2 separate regions of the Homo sapiens genome follow, and region 2 is linked to region 1. A link means that fine-mapping ties the variant in region 1 to the expression of a gene that starts in the linked region. Tissue or cell type: testis. Region 1 holds a variant in brackets; the other region holds the start of a gene. All regions are shown on one strand. Distances are from middle to middle.

Evidence for each region. PIP is the estimated chance that this variant, and not a neighbour inherited with it, causes the effect.
Region 2: it holds the start of TRIM35, and the variant in region 1 is fine-mapped to the expression of TRIM35 in testis (GTEx, PIP above 0.99).

The regions. Positions count from the first base shown.
Region 1 is chr8:27,286,850-27,295,029 of GRCh38, reverse strand. TRIM35 (tripartite motif containing 35) reads left to right here. Exons shown (of 6, transcript NM_171982.5): 3 at 720-950; 4 at 4,852-4,874; 5 at 5,750-5,868; 6 at 6,903-8,180. The coding sequence ends at 7,480. Among named protein-coding and RNA genes, the nearest start is that of TRIM35, 20 kb to the left of the region's middle. The variant C/T (reference allele first, on the strand shown) is at 4,608.
Region 2 is chr8:27,306,198-27,314,377 of GRCh38, reverse strand. It overlaps TRIM35 (tripartite motif containing 35), which reads left to right and starts at 3,106. Exons shown (of 6, transcript NM_171982.5): 1 at 3,106-3,577. The coding sequence starts at 3,143. It also overlaps a transcript of PTK2B not described here. RefSeq lists a silencer at 2,888-3,097 and enhancers at 3,248-3,397, 3,408-3,627, 4,028-4,137.

The DNA of each region.
Region 1 (8,180 bases):
CAACGTGGCAAAACCCCATCTCTACTAAAAAATACAAAAATTAGCTGGGCGTGGTGGCGTGTGCCTGTAGTCCCAGCTACTCGGGAGGCTGAGGCAGGGAAAATTGCTTGAACCCAGGAGGCAGAGGTTGCAGTGAGCCAAGATCACACCACTGCACTCCAGCCTAGGTGAAAGAGCGAGACTTAGTCTCAAAAAGAAAAAAAAAAACAAACTTTTTGTGGTTGTGATTTGGAGTGTGTATATTATTTTAATGATTGTTTTAAAATGAATGCTTCCTACTGCTCTTTTGGTAAAGCCTCTGGATCAGACAAATTTTAAGTCCTAAGATTGGAAGGTAAATACTTAAAAAAAAATCATTGCTATTCGCAGCCATTCATTTCTATGATTCAGGACTTCCCTTGTTATGGTGCAACCTAAAGAAGGAACTGAACATTGTATGTAGATGAGGTTATAGTACTACAGTTGCCATCTATATAAGCTGTGATTTTATTTTTAAAAACCCTGTCAAAACAATCTAATATTAGGTTGTTGGACTTTCCCATTTGAAATCGGAACTTAGAAATTTGTGCTTATAAACTATTATGTTGATATTTTATCTGTAGGGGTTCTATACATGATTTATTTGAACATAAATTTCCTTTGCTAAAAATGGGAAAGTTGCTGGGCTATGGATGTCCTCTCCACATCTGACCCCTGACTCCTCCTGCTGTCTTCCGTAGGTGGAGGCTGCATGGCTGGAAGGCCGGATCCGGCAGGAGTTTGATAAGCTTCGCGAGTTCTTGAGAGTGGAGGAGCAGGCCATTCTGGATGCCATGGCCGAGGAGACAAGGCAGAAGCAACTTCTGGCCGACGAGAAGATGAAGCAGCTCACAGAGGAGACGGAGGTGCTGGCACATGAGATCGAGCGGCTGCAGATGGAGATGAAGGAGGACGACGTTTCTTTTCTCATGGTAAGGAGCTCAGCGTCTGGATTCAGTGACAGGGCCACATGTTCCAGGACCAGCTGGGAGCCATAGCCCACCAGCCCTGGCCAACGTCATCTTCCTGGAGCTTCCTGGGTACTGGCCTGGAGGAGCTCACAAGTAACCTGCTCTGCTTGTGTCATGAAACTAAAAAGACTTATCAGGGCGGAGTTCCTTGAAACCCTGTTATTTCTTCCTCGCTCTTCTTTTTTTTAGAGACAGGGTCTTGCTGTATCACCCAGGCTGGAGTACAGTGGGTGATTATAGCTCAGTGTAACCTCAAACTCATGGGCTCAAGTGATCCTCTCTCCTTAGCCTCCTGAGTAGCTGGGACTACAGGCACGAGCCACCATGCCCAACTAATTTTTTTCATTTTTTACCAGTCAGGTAGGGGTGAGGGGGGTCTCACTATGTTGCCCAAGCTGGTCTTGAATCCCTGGCCTCAAGTGATGCTTCCACCTTGGCCTCCCAGGTAGTTGGACTACTGGCGCACCACTGTGCCCAGCTCCTGTCTCTTCTTTCTTCCTTTCTCTTGCCCTCTCTCTTACTCTCATTTTTTTTCCGGTCTCTACCTTTTAATAAGATGAATTCTTTTAAAATCATTCAATTATTTAAATTTTTTATTTAAATATAATGCCTTGGCTTTCTGTCTTCTTAAGAAAAGGATGATTCCATTCTCTCTTTAAAAAAACAGTATTATTCATTTTTTTTTCCTTTTATTGATTTATTTCCTCCCCATGAGCCAGTGGTCCTTACAAATTTCCTACAGGGAAATTTCTGGGCTCGAAAGCTGGTCTGTAAACTGGCCAGGGTGGTGAGGTGTCTCTTGTACCTGGAAAACAGCTGACTGCTGTGGAAGGGGTGTCGCTGTAGAGTGGAGTGGGAGGCGACAGGGACAGTTATCTGTTCAGGCAGTGTCATCTCCTGGGTGGGTCCTTTAGGAGTTCTCCACCTCACTCAAAGCCTGGAACCATGAAGTCTCCTGTCTCAAAAATGTCCCTGATTATGAAATCATTCTGTGTTCAGAGCTGTCTCTAAAAAGAAAAATGAAGAAAAAAAAAAAAGAAAAAGAAAAATCATTTTGTGGGATCTAAAAGCTGTGTGTCTCGAGGATTCTGTTTAGGGAATTGGGAGTATTGTCTGCCCAGTACTCAGAGTGCTTTCAGGGATGATTTTGGTTTGTGACTCTTTTTTATTTTTTATTAACAACTTTATTGAGATATAATTTACATGCTAAACAATTCACCCATTTAAAATGTACCACTCAGTGATTTTTAGTATATACAGAGTTGTGCAACCATCACGACAATTTTAGAACATTTCATGCCTCCAAAAGCAGCCCTGCTTTAGCTGTCACTCCCCAGTTCCTCCTCCCACATAAAAACTGCTACCGAAATTGAGTCTAACAGAGTGGTAATTACTAGAATTAGCAGCCCCTGGCAACCACTAGTCTACATACTATCTATATGGATTTACCTGTTGTAGACATTTCAAATGCATGGAATTATATAACATGTAACCTTTTGTGACTGCCTTCTTTCAGTCAGCATATTTTGAAACATCATTCATGTTGTAGCATCTATCAGTACTTCATTCTTTTTTATGGCTGAATAATATTCCATGGCATAGATATATAATCATGCACTTCTTAGTGATGGGGATATGTTCTGAGAAATGTATTATTAGGCAGTTTCTTCATTATGCAAGTGTCATGGAGTGTGCTTACAGAAGCCTACATGGTGTAGCCTACTGCACACCTAGATTATATGGAATAGCCTTTTGCTCCTAGGCTACAAACCTGTACAGCACGTTGCTGCACTGAATACTGTAGGCAACTGGAGCCCACTGTTAAGTATTTGTATATCTAAACATAGAAAAAGTACAGTAAAAAACAGTGATATAATCTCATGGGACCATACCATAGTCATATATGTGGTTCCTTGTTGACTGAAACATCGTTACGTTGCACATGGCTATATTATATTTTATTGATTGATTTATCAATTGGTGGTTGCTGTGGTTTAAATATGTTCCCCAAAATTTATGTGTTACAAACTTAATCCCCAATGCAACAGTGTTGGGTGGTGGAGCCTAATAAGAAGTGATTGGGTCATGAGAGCCCTCATGAATGGGTTAATGTTGTTACTGGCAGAGTGGGTTAGTTATTGAGAGAGTGGGCTTGTTATAAAAGTGAGTTTGGGCCCCTCTTGCTCTCTTGCTCTTGGTCTTATGTGTAGTCTCTTGCCCTTCTTCCTTCTGCCATGGGATGACACAGCATGAGGGCTCTCATCAGATGCTGGTGCCATGCTCTTGGACTTTCCAGCTTCAGAACCACGAGTGAAATAAACTATTGTTTATAAATTACCCAGTCTGTGGTATTTTGTTACAGCAACACAAAATGAACTAAGACAGTGGTCATTTGGGTTGTTTCTATTTTGGCTATTATGAATAATATGACTATAAACATTCAGGTAGCAATTTTTATGTGGACATGTTTTCATTTTTCTTGGAAATATGTCTGGGAGTAGATTTGCTGGATCAAATGGTAACTCTAGGTTTAACTATTGGAAGAACTGCTAGGCCATTATTCAGAGCAACTGTATCATTTTATATTCCCATCAGGAGTGTATGTGGATTCCAGTTTCTCCATATTTTTGCCAAAATTTGTTTTTTAAAAATTATAACCATCCTTGTAGGTGTGAAGTGGTATCTCCTTGTGTATTGCATGTCATCACATCCCTGATGGCTAATGACTTGGAACATCTTTTCATGGGCTTTTTGATCATTAGTAGATCTTCCTTGGACAAATGTCTATTCACATCCTTTGCCCATTTTTAATGTGGGTTGTCTTTTTATTGTTGAGTTGTAAGAGTTCTTTATATAGTCTAGATACAAGTTTTTTATCGGTTTTAGCTCTTCATGTAGGTCTTTGATGCATTTTGAGTTTTTTTTTTGTATATGGTATAGTAAGGGTTAGTCCAACTTCACTTTTTTTTTTTTTTTTTTTTTGCATGTCAACATACAGTTTTCCCAGTACCATTTGTTGGAAAGACTATTCCTCCATTAAATCATCTTGGCACTATTGTAAATAATTGATTGATGGTAAATATGAGGGTTTATTTCTGGACTTTCAATTCTATTCCATTGATCTCAGTGCCTGTTTTTATATTAGTACCATACTATCTTGATTACTGTTGATTTGTAGTAAGTCTTGAAATTGGAGATTATGAGTCTTCCAATGTTCTTCTTTTTCAAGATGGTTTTGGCTATTCTGGGTTCCTTGAAATTTTGTGTGAATTTTAGGATCAGTTTTTTAGTTTCTGCAAAGAAGCCAGCTAGGATAAGGGATTGCACTGAATCAGTAGATCAACTTAAGGAGTCTCTTCTTATGTTTTCTGTTGCTATGACAGAATATCACAGACTGGGTAAATTATAAAACAATACAAGTTTATTCAGCTCAGTGTTCTGGGTGAGGCCAGGAAGTCCAGGAGCATGATGGCTCTGGCATTTGGTGTGGGTCATCTCATGGCAGAAGGAGGAAATGAGTGCAAGACAGAGTAGTTGCTCATTGCTTTATAGCAACCCAGTCTCATGACAACTAAACCACTTCACAATAACGGTATTAATCCATTTGTGAGGGCTCTG[C/T]CCTCATGACCCAATCACCTCTTTTTAGGCCTTTCCTCCCAACACTGTCGCATTGGGGATTCAGTGTTCAACACATGAACTTTTGGATAATATGTTCAAATCATAGCAGGGATGTTATTGTTAACATCTTGACAATATTAAGACTTATGATCCATGGAATGCATGACTTCTTTTGAGGTCAGAAACATATACATTTCCTCTACATCTGTGTCTCTGTGTTATTTTTTTATTTTTATTTTTTCAGAAACACAAGAGCCGAAAACGCCGGTAAGTTGCCAAAGCTGGTGGAGGGGAGGGGAAGAGTGGGCAGAAATACCAGGGGTGCAAACTCCAGTGGCCCCGGGGCAAGCAGGTAACAACCAGCTGGGTGCACCAGCACACATGAGCTACTGGCCCTGGTTTTAGAGGGAGAGGTGGACAATGGCCAGGTGGAGAGAGCCCTCTCACAGCATCCAGTTCAAGTTGGCTCTGGGGCAGTGTTGTTCTCCTGAGTGTGGAGGGTCCCCACCTGCCGTGCAGGGAAGGAGAACACTATCCTGCATGTGGCTTGCATTTCTCGGGGCCAGTCAATGTCAGGCTTGTTTCTTGATCAGCCCCCTCCCTCTGAGAGCCTTAGGCCATGGTGGTTTGTGTTGATGGTTGTTGGGTTCACAGGGATGAATGAGGAAGAGCTGTGTCCCAGTCAGAGCTGTGCAAAGATGGAATAGAGTGCTTTTGGAGGGAGTGAGTTCCCTGTGCTCACTTCCCACTGGCAGTGTGCAAGCAAAGGCTGGAGGACACCTTGGGATTGTTGGACTAGAGCATCCTTAGGGTCCCTTCCAACTCAGACATCCCATGAGCCGGATGTGTAAGTGTGATTTCTGCCTGCAAGGATGGCAGCCATGTTGGAGAACCTCCTGTTTGTATTTCTCCTAGTTGGGGCAGGGTGAGCCCTCGGATTGAATGCTGAAGGGAGATGGCAGCCCTGTTGGCCTTGGCCCATCTCCCATCGTAGCCCAGTCCAGTCTTGTCTTGGAGAAGGTGGCCAGGAAACTTGGGCCTGAGGGAAGGGAACAAGTCCTGTTGCTGGTTTCCAGTTGGCCCAGTTCGGCCCAGGTTGCATGGCTCTGGCCCTGCCCACCATACCCATTGTACTTTTCCAGACTCTTCTGCACCATGGAGCCAGAGCCAGTCCAGCCCGGCATGCTTATCGATGTCTGCAAGTACCTGGGCTCCCTGCAGTACCGCGTCTGGAAGAAGATGCTTGCATCTGTGGAATCTGGTGAGCGGGGGTGCCGGCAGGTGTCCCAAGCATGGGTGGAAGCCCTTCATGTTAGCAAAGAGGCACCAGGGCTGGTCTCTGCCGGGCCCACCTCCCACCTCCTCAGAGCTCCCCTCCTCTCTCAGCTGATCCCTCTGCCAGTCCCTCGCAGGCAGGTTCCTGTACCCTGGTCTTTTCCACTCTGCCCAACACCTCCAACCCTCCTGGTAGAATGCCTTCTCTCAGGGTCCTGACACTTGGTCCCTTCTTCAGAGAGGGAAACTGGCTTTCTTGCCTATTCAGAACTGTGTTTTGTATGATAAAAGACCTCCTGCATCTGGGCTTGCCTCTCCTAAGGCGACTGCAGCCCACATGAGCCACAGTGTCCTGGTTTTACGGGGAGGAATATCACTGACTCAGGGAATGGGCCGTGCTGTCCTAACATCCCTTGGTCGTGTGAGTGTTAAGAGTCTCTGCCTGTATGAGTTCCTGTGGCTGCCATAACGAAGGACCACAAACTAGAAAATGACAGAAGTTGACTCTCTCACAGTTCTGGAGGGTAGAAATCCAAAATCCAGATGTTGGAAGGACCAGGCCCCCTCTGAAACCTGTAGAGGAGAGTCTTCATTTCCTCTTCCGTCTCCTGGTGTCTCCTGGCCATTCTTGGCCTTATTGGCTCCCCCTCAGCACTTTGATCCTCACCTCCGCCATCACACAGCATTCTCCCCTGTGTATCTGTGTCTGTCTCCTCTTTATTTTAAGGACACAGGTCATATTGGATTGGGGACCCTCCTCCAGTCTTCATCTTAACTAATATGTGTACAACCACCCCATTCCCAAATAAGGTCACACTCGGAGGTACCAGGGGTTGGGACTGCCGCATATCTTCTGGGGGATACAGCCCAACCCCTGCCACCACTCCAGCCCTGGGCCACTCCTTGCATGGACTTGGGGCCAGGTGTGACACAGTGGTTGGTTTGTGGGGCTGGAGATATCCACGTGTGGCCTAAGGGACCTCAGGTTTGCTGATTCCCCATTTCCGCCTCTGCTTGCAGTACCCTTCAGCTTTGACCCCAACACCGCAGCTGGCTGGCTCTCCGTGTCTGACGACCTCACCAGCGTCACCAACCATGGCTACCGCGTGCAGGTGGAGAACCCGGAACGCTTCTCCTCGGCGCCCTGCCTGCTGGGCTCCCGTGTCTTCTCACAGGGCTCGCACGCCTGGGAGGTGGCCCTTGGGGGGCTGCAGAGCTGGAGGGTGGGCGTGGTACGTGTGCGCCAGGACTCGGGCGCTGAGGGCCACTCACACAGCTGCTACCACGACACACGCTCGGGCTTCTGGTATGTCTGCCGCACGCAGGGCGTGGAGGGGGACCACTGCGTGACCTCGGACCCAGCCACGTCGCCCCTGGTCCTGGCCATCCCACGCCGCCTGCGTGTGGAGCTGGAGTGTGAGGAGGGCGAGCTGTCTTTCTATGACGCGGAGCGCCACTGCCACCTGTACACCTTCCACGCCCGCTTTGGGGAGGTTCGCCCCTACTTCTACCTGGGGGGTGCACGGGGCGCCGGGCCTCCAGAGCCTTTGCGCATCTGCCCCTTGCACATCAGTGTCAAGGAAGAACTGGATGGCTGAGCTGGCCCGGGGCTGCCCCGGTCTTGTGCCACAGCACTGTTTTCTTTCTGCCCTCTTCCTAATGCCCACACTGCTTGGGCACTATTGCGCCCCTGCCTCCTTGCCAGGCTCTTCCTCCTGTCCTGCCTGGTCCTTTTCCATGACTCCAGGCTGTGCCTCTCTCCATGTTTGGTCCCTTCTGTGCCCATGGTCAGGAGCTATTCGGGTGGCACCTCGCTGGCCAGGCTCTCCCGAGTCGTGGCACCTCCACAATGTGAATTTTCTGAATCCCTATTCCAGGATTTCTGGGAATAATGTTTACTTCTAGAATGGGCCTGTTGTAAACCATCTCATCGAGGTGTGGTAAAGCCATTGGATGAGGAGGGGACTGCCATGGAAAGGAGAGTTTGTTACTTACGGTTCTGAGAGGAGGGGCCACATAGGAAAGCCCCACGGTGGGTCAGAAGGCGGAAGGAGGGAGGGGAACGTGTGGGCAAGAGACTTCCTCTGGTTTCCTCAGGAGGAAATGGGCAAGGCAGAGTAAGCAGGGGAGACAGGTTTAAGGGTAGCTGGCTTGAGTAATTTCAGTGGCTCTCAGGATAGGGGCTGCCCTTTTTGTCTGATACCTGGCCCCGGGATAGTCAGGACAGGTGAATGTTGGCCTGGGGTGTGACAGCCCTGGGAGAGCCATGTGAAGGAGGCAGCTGGCGCCATCGCTCCG
Region 2 (8,180 bases), 19 kb before region 1:
TTGTGAGCTCAAGGCCTTCTTCGACCTCCCAAAGTGCTGGGGTTACAGGTGTGAGCCACCACTGGCACCTGGCCCGATCCGCCATGCCTGGCCTGATCATAGTTTTATGTGACATGGGAGCCTTCAGAATGAAGACCTAAAGATAGACTGGAAATGGCTCATTTTCATGCTTAGGTTCAGCAAAGTATGAGTAGCTGTGTAGAAATATGATTGAACAAAAGGGTATGAGCTAATGTTAATAAACTGAGTGGGGAACCTAGGCCTGTCTGTCTAGATTTTTCTTGGCCTCTACGAACATGCATTTCTTCCTTCCAGGTATGTTACAGGTAGTTAGACAGGCATGAGCAGGGCAGGAGAGGACTCTACCCTCCCCAATCCCCTCAAGCAAGAATGCCAGGTGATGGTTTCACAGTTATCACACTGCCTTTCTAAAATGGATAATTTGGCAGATGGGCCAGAGAGAGGGAGAGAGACAATTCCCTGATGGTCCACAGCTGTCACTAAAGTGTTACTTGATGTTAATTGATATTAAAGCAGGTGCCAGGCATAGGCAATTTCCCAAACAGATAAAAACACTTGAGATTGGTAATCAGCTTCCAATAAAATTTCAGAAATTGGGTGAGTGAGCTTGGGCATGCACATTAAGAGACAAAATAGTGGAGTATGACCTTCCGGGGGCATTCCACTGGAAAAGGGAAGAAAGCCTCAGATGGGCATGTGTACAAATTCCTAAGCACATGGTGCATGCTCACCTCCCAAGCATAGGGAGGGCACTGTGCATTCGGGCAGCTCACACTGAGGGAAGAATGAAGGGAGAGGGCAGCAAGACTCCAGAAGTGGGCCAGCATATGAAGTCCCAGGATCAGGGTTAAATGCCACACTTGTCCCTCAAGTTGCCCGCTTGGGTCTCTTCCAAGTGTACTTTCTTTTCTGTCCCAAACTTTTTAATAAACTTCCACTCTTGCTCTGAAACTTGCCTCAGTTGCTTTTTCTGCCTTATGCCCTGTATTAGTCCATTTTCACATTGCTATAAAGAACTGCCTTAGACTGACTGGGTAATTTATAAAGGAAAGAGGTTTAATTGACTCACAGTTCCGCATGGCTGGCGAGGCCTCAGAAAACTTACAATCACAGTGGAAGGTGAAGGTGAAGCAAGACACCTCCTTTGCAAGGCTGCAGGAAGGAGAATGAACACAGGAGGAATTACCAAACACTTATAAAACCATCAGATCTCGTGAGAACTCACTCACTATCAGGAGAACAGCATGGGGGGAAAACCACCCCTGTGATTCAATTACCTCCACCTGGTCTCTCCCTTGACACGTGGGAATTATGGGGATTACAATTCAAGATGAGATTTGGGGTGGGGACACAGCCAAACCATATCATGCCCCTCAGTCTAATTCTTTCTTCCAAGGAGGCAAGAATTGAGGTTGCTGCAGACCCATACAGATTCACTGCTGTTAACTCAGACACCTTCTACCCCTAACAGGTATGGGGTAGGACCCTCTCTGGAATCGGGCTCTTATGGCCTACAGTCAAACAAGGTAGGTCAGATAATTTCTTTATGGCCAGTTATTCCACAGAAAGGCAGAGAGAAAGAGTAATATTTTAAGGTTTCAAGACTGGCTTTAGGAAAAAGGGGTTCTGGTTTCTATGACCTGCCTTGGGGAAAAGGAATTCTAATTTCTATGGCTATCCTTGGGGGACTGAGAGATAGGAGGGCAGAGAAAAATTTCTGCTTTTGAGGCCATTTTGGGGTATTGTTTTCTGAGTTTCAACACTAACAAGTTTGCATGCCAAAATTTCATGAATACTGCTAAAAGATGAAACTCCTGGGTCAGAGACAAAGGATAATACTAACAGCAATAATAGTAGTCACAGTATTGTCATTGGGCCAGTTTCTGAGCCCTAATTCTTGCAAGACTATGTGATGAAGGCTACAGTAGGTTGCATTACAGGAGAGGGGCCCCAAGTTTAGGAAACTCACATCTCTTATAATTGGGAATAAGTCTGCCAGATCTTTGGAGAGACAAGAATTCTGTCTTCCAGGGCTATTCAATGCAGAAACATCCTTGAAAAGATAGTTGGAAAAAGGCAGTCAGTGCCTCTGCTCTCTCAAGACATGCAGGAACATGACACATGTGAATTGTCTCCCAATAGAAAAGGAATGAAAGTGCATCGTGTGAAAAGTATTCTGCATCTGGAGGCTGTAAAGTGATCAAACTGAAGCAGGAATGAAGATCTGAAGGAACCATCCAGGCCTACTGTACCTGGCAAGAATTGAGCATGAACTCTAGTTATCTCAGCTAAACTTTGCAGAAGTCCTCAATTTCACTGTTTTAATGGGCACTTGCCCATTAAAACAGTGGTTGTCATGAGCACTTTCCACATTTATTTCACTTTATCCTCACACTTCATGGAAACAGAGCTATTACAGCCATTGTACTCATGAGTAAATGGACTTTGAAACATGATGACCTGTTCACTTTTTCAACCACAGGACAAGAATCAGGTTTTCTCGGAGCTCTTCTGCCGCCACCCCTCTCTTGTTTCTCCTTACCGCGGCGGGCCAGAAGAAGACTGGCCAAAATAAGTAAACGACTAATGCAAGAGTGGCATAGGTCCTCAAAAAGGCGCTGCAAACTTAAGTGGTGATTGCACTCACGGTGCTTTAAGACCCAGCCACTACTTCGGAAGCAGGAAGTTGGCATCTCTGGTTTCTCCCATCCGCGGGCCTGAGGTTCCCGGGGATTGGTTAAGGTAGAGGCTCCTTTTCCCATTTGCAGCCGGAAGTAGGTTTCCAGTAACACGGAAGCCCTACTACGCCGCCTGGGAGACCCTTCCGTGCTACCCCGGCCAGGGACCCGCCCGGACCTGAGGAGGCGGGAACTGCGGGCAGAAGGCCCACCCCGCTCTCCCAAGATTTCCCGCGCACACCGGAAGTGGGTGGGGCTCCTCCGAGCGCCCCCTCCCTCCCCCTCGCCATCCCCCCCGCACGATTGGCCAGCGCCGCTGTCTCTCAGCGTTCCAGGGGAAGGGACTGGGCGATTCCCAGCACTCGGGTCGCGGGCGTTGGCAGCCGGGCGGGTGGGAGGGGCCGGAGCAAAAGTTCCGGGCGCCCGAGCCGGCTGCTCGTGCCATGGAGCGGAGTCCCGACGTGTCCCCCGGGCCTTCCCGCTCCTTCAAGGAGGAGTTGCTCTGCGCCGTCTGCTACGACCCCTTCCGCGACGCAGTCACTCTGCGCTGCGGCCACAACTTCTGCCGCGGGTGCGTGAGCCGCTGCTGGGAGGTGCAGGTGTCGCCCACCTGCCCAGTGTGCAAAGACCGCGCGTCACCCGCCGACCTGCGCACCAACCACACCCTCAACAACCTGGTGGAGAAGCTGCTGCGCGAGGAGGCCGAGGGCGCGCGCTGGACCAGCTACCGCTTCTCGCGTGTCTGCCGCCTGCACCGCGGACAGCTCAGCCTCTTCTGCCTCGAGGACAAGGAGCTGCTGTGCTGCTCCTGCCAGGCCGACCCCCGACACCAGGGGCACCGCGTGCAGCCGGTGAAGGACACTGCCCACGACTTTCGGGTAAGAGCAGCGATTTGCACGAGGCGGCCGAGCCGGGTCTGGAACCCGGAATCCCTTGGCTCTGCGGCTCCCGCCCCTCCTGCCTGCCAGAGCCCAGTGTGCCCGCGTCTCGCTCCCAGCATGCAGGACCCCACCTCTCCGACCCAGGTTCTCAGGGCTGGCTGCTTCTTCAAGGTCGGCCCAGGGGCCCGTGCTGGGAGAAGAGAATGCGAACGGAAAGTGACAGATGAGGTTACATGATGTTCCCAAGACAGCGACACTTGCTTCTGAAGGGCCCAGGCCATGCACCCCTTGTGCCAGCCGGGTGTGGCCCAGGTCCCTTTAAGCGGCACGGATGTGGGTGCAGCCCACGAGCCCTGTAGCTTGGCACACTCAATTTAGAAGTGGAGGAGGAGCCACAGACCTGGCCAGGGGTGTGGAGTCTTAAGATTTCCCCCAAACCAGTCACCTACTTGCCAAGCTGATCCCGCGGTTTGTATTATCTGAGTGAGAGGTCTCTGACCCTGGCTGGCTGGCCTATTCTGGTTTATAAAGCAGCATCTCCATATCTAGAGTTCTAGTGACTATACATAAACCCAGGAGCAACTTACAGGGCAAAACTAACATGGAGAATTCTTTGATATAGGAAGGAAAAATGAATAGAAGATAAGGGTTAGCCTAACTCAGCATTTTCCAAAACGTTTAATCTTAGCCCATAGGAAGCAATGCATTTTCCCTTGTGACCCAGAACATATGTATCAGTTGAAACAAAAGTTTTCTGAACATGTCCATGGCACTCTGATATTTTCTGTTACTTCCCTTTGTTTTTTTTTTTTTTTGAGACCTCTATCGCCCAGGTTAGAGTGCAGTGGCGTGCTCTTAGCTCACTGCAACCTCCGCCTCCTGGGTTCAAGCGATTCTGGTGCCTCAGCCTCCCGAGTAGCTGAGATTACAGGCATGTACCAACACGCCTGGCTAATTTTTTTTTTTTTTTAATTTCTAGTAGAGGCAGGGTTTCACCATGTTGGCCAGGCTGGTCTGGAACTCCTGGCCTCAAGTGATCTGCCCTCCTCTGCCTCCCAAACTACTGGGATTACAGGCGTGAGCCACTCCGCCTGGCCTCTGTTACTTTTAAAAATTACCCAGAATGTGAAACATTGAATTTATTTCATCACCTGCTAATGCATGAGTCAGAGCCCCAATTGGGAGAACACTGGGTAGCTGGCCCGAAGCTGCATGGACTGGAGAGGAGGAGCTGCCCGAGTCCCCTGTGCCTGGTTTCTGGCCCCCTCTGTGGCCCTGCCTTCTTTTTTTGCAATACCTTTTTAAATACGGAAGTCTGTTCCGCTCCAAATGCATTTGACAAAGTTTAATTGAAGGGGAATGTAAGGATGCTGTCAGTACGCATGTCTCAATGAGTAACCCTGTTACTCCTGTCATCTTTTTTGTTTAACATGGGTCCATGTCAATGCTTTTCCTGTTTCCACTGGCAGAAGTGACAGATCCTGATTTGGGACAGCTGGAATAAGTGCTGGCCAGCCAGGGGTCTGGGGCCCAGGTAAAGGAGGGATCATGGTTCAGGTCATGACTGATGCCTATTTGGCTGGCCGAGGTGCTGATCAGGAGATGCTGGGGTCAGGGCTGAGAACACCCAGGCAGAGCCCCCAGGCTGGGGCCAAGCCAGGATTCAAGAGCAGAGAGCCATGCACCAGCAGATGCCTGGTACTGCAAGGTCCCAGGGATACTGCAGGAGACAAGATAGACCATTTCCAGCCTCAAGGAGCTTCCAGCAGAGACCCGAGGGAAGAGGAGGTGTTAGCCAGGTGAAAGAGGGTATTTCAGATAGAGGCAGCAGCATTTGGAAGGGTCCAGAAGTGGGAAAGCCTGACTTTCTAGGCACTGAGGGAATTTAAGGGTAGTTAGAATGAGGAGGGACGTGCAGGAGGATCCAGGAGGCCGGTGGCTCACCCTTGCTGTGAACAGCAGCTGGGGGTTTTAGCAGAAGAATGATGGTGTCAAGTCAGTGGACACTCAGGATGATGTCAGGGGCTGAGTAGTCTAGTCCCAAATGGATCTGAGAAGAATGAGAGCCAGGTGTGGTCAGCCTGATGCAGGGTGCAAATCACTCATTTACTAGACAAATGGGTACTGATGGCTGTTGTGTGCTGTGGCCTCTTCTTAGCTTCATGGAATTCTCATTTGAGCAGGGGGCATAGACAGTCAATAGACAAGATGTAGTTCTGTGTGATTCAAGGTAGGTGGTTGTGGGGGAGCGGTATGGGAAGATTCCCTCCACCACTTGGTAAGAAGGGACTGGGTAAGAAGCTGTGTGCCTCACTGAGGGGGTTTTCCGTTTTGTGCTGTGGGGAGCTCTGAAAGATTCTAAACAGGGGAGTTTGTGATGGGATGTGTGTTTTAGAGAAAGATTACTTTGCCAACTATCTATGTGAGGAACAGCAAAGTCAAAATCATCCCAGCTAACACATTTCAGTGCTCACTGTGTGCTAGATGCTTTTCAGTGTTCACACGTCAACAAATTTAATGCTCACAAAAACGTATTTTCAGGTCCTGTGTTTCCTGTTACTGCGTAATAAATGTGGTGGTTTAAAATAGCACAAGTTTGTTCTCTTATGGTTCTGGAGGTTGGAAGTCCTAAAATCGAGGTGTCTGCAGGGCTACATTCCTTTTGGAGGCTCCAGGGAGAATTTATTTCCTTGCCTTCTCCAGCTTGCAGAGGCCCCTTCTTCCAGCTCTGAAGTGTGTCATTCCGTTCTGCATCTGTTGTCACTTTGACTTCTTTGACCAGTTCTACTACCTCCCTCTCATAAGGACCCTGTGATGACATTGGGCCCACCCAGGTAATCCAGGATAACCTCCCCACAGCAAGATCCTTAATTTAATCATCTGCACAGTCCCTTTTGCCATACAAGATTCTGGGGATTAGAATGGGGACATCTTTTCGGGGAAATAATTATTCAGCTTGCTACAGTTAGGTGCTATTATCCCCATTTTATAGACAATTATAGAATCATAGAGAGGGTAAGAAACTTGTCCAAAGTCACAGAGCAAGTAGCTCTAAAGATCACCTGGAGCCTTGTTCAGTTCACACACTGGTCCTGGACTTTGAGAGAGGTTTCTCTCATCTCAGACTTCAGCGGGCAGCTGACTGTGTGTTAGGGGTTGGAGTGGCTGTTGACCATTGTCAGGGCTGGCAGAAGGTACTGGTTGTGTGCCAGTACTGTGTCCAGGACAGGACCGGACAGTCCTAGACCTTGCCTTTGTGGGCATGGTTGTATCATCTCACTAATAATTACATAGTTTCAGCTCAACATTCCTGTGAAGGACAGTACAGGATGTGGTGGGAGATTGTAAGGGGGAGGCTGCTCTTGTTTGGTGGGGTGTGGGAAGGAGTCTCCAAGGAAGTGATTTCGCTGAGAGGAGCTGATTGAGGGGCGGCGAGCAGTGTGTGTGTGTGGCGGGGGTGTGGCGGCGGGGCACAGCGTGGGGGTGTGCAGTGACTGAGAGATGGTTCACGTGGGGATGAGGAACTGCAGGACAGATCCCACAGGACACAGAGGGCCCTGCTTAGGAGCTGGGATTTTTATCGTAGGTGCAGTGGCGCATGATGGAAGGACTGATGAGATTTGGGAGCCTGGCATCATGTTTACAGCAGAGCTGTAGCAAGGAACAGTGCTTGGAAGGACCTTCAGAAATCCTAGTCTGGCGTTTCTCAAACTTGAACAAGTATGCATTCTTCTTAAAGGAAAAAATAGTCTAGCCAGTGAGAGTTAAATTATGTTATTATTTACATGCATACAAATGCAAACCTGGTATAAATAGCACTTGCTCATGCTACATATAAGCAATAAAACAAAAGGAAGTGAACAGACTGAATACAAAACTATAATCAATAACATTCCACTTAAAATATTAATTCTAAAGTTTTATTTTGCTGGAACAAAATCTCTACTCCTGGCCAAGATACTTCTGATTCTCCCATTACTCTGTTCCAAGTGACTACTTAATCCGCCCAAATTTCTCTGAAGAGCTCTGGAGCTTTCTTGTTACGGGATTGGCCTTCATTTGGGTCCGGCACATTCTTTACCTGCTATGTGTATTTCTCTTCTTTCCTTATCAGGACAAGACGATGAAAGTCATGTCTTGATATCAAGTAAGCTGTTAAGAAAATATGAATGGTGGCCGGGTGTGGTGGCTCATGCCTGTAATCCCAGCACTTTGGGAGGCCGAGGCAGGCAGATCACGAGGTCAGGAGTTCGAGACCAGCCTGGCCAGTATGGTGAAACCCCATCTCTACTAAAAATGCAAAAATTAACCAGGCATGGTGGCAGGTACCTGTAGTCCCAGCTACTTGGGAGGCTGAGGCAGGAGAATCGCTTAAACCCGGGAGATGGAGGTTGCAGTGAGCCGAGATCGTGCCACTGCCCTCCAGCCTGTACGACAGAGCAAGACACTGTCTCAAAAAAAAAAAAAAGAAAGAAAAAAAGAAAATACGAATGCTGATGATGAAGTTGTGAACTGAAAGCATGTGTCAGCGCTGTTTATGTCGTGGCTTGGAGTAGGATTGTCTTAGGTTTGGTTTAGGTTGCCATTAAATGAAAACATC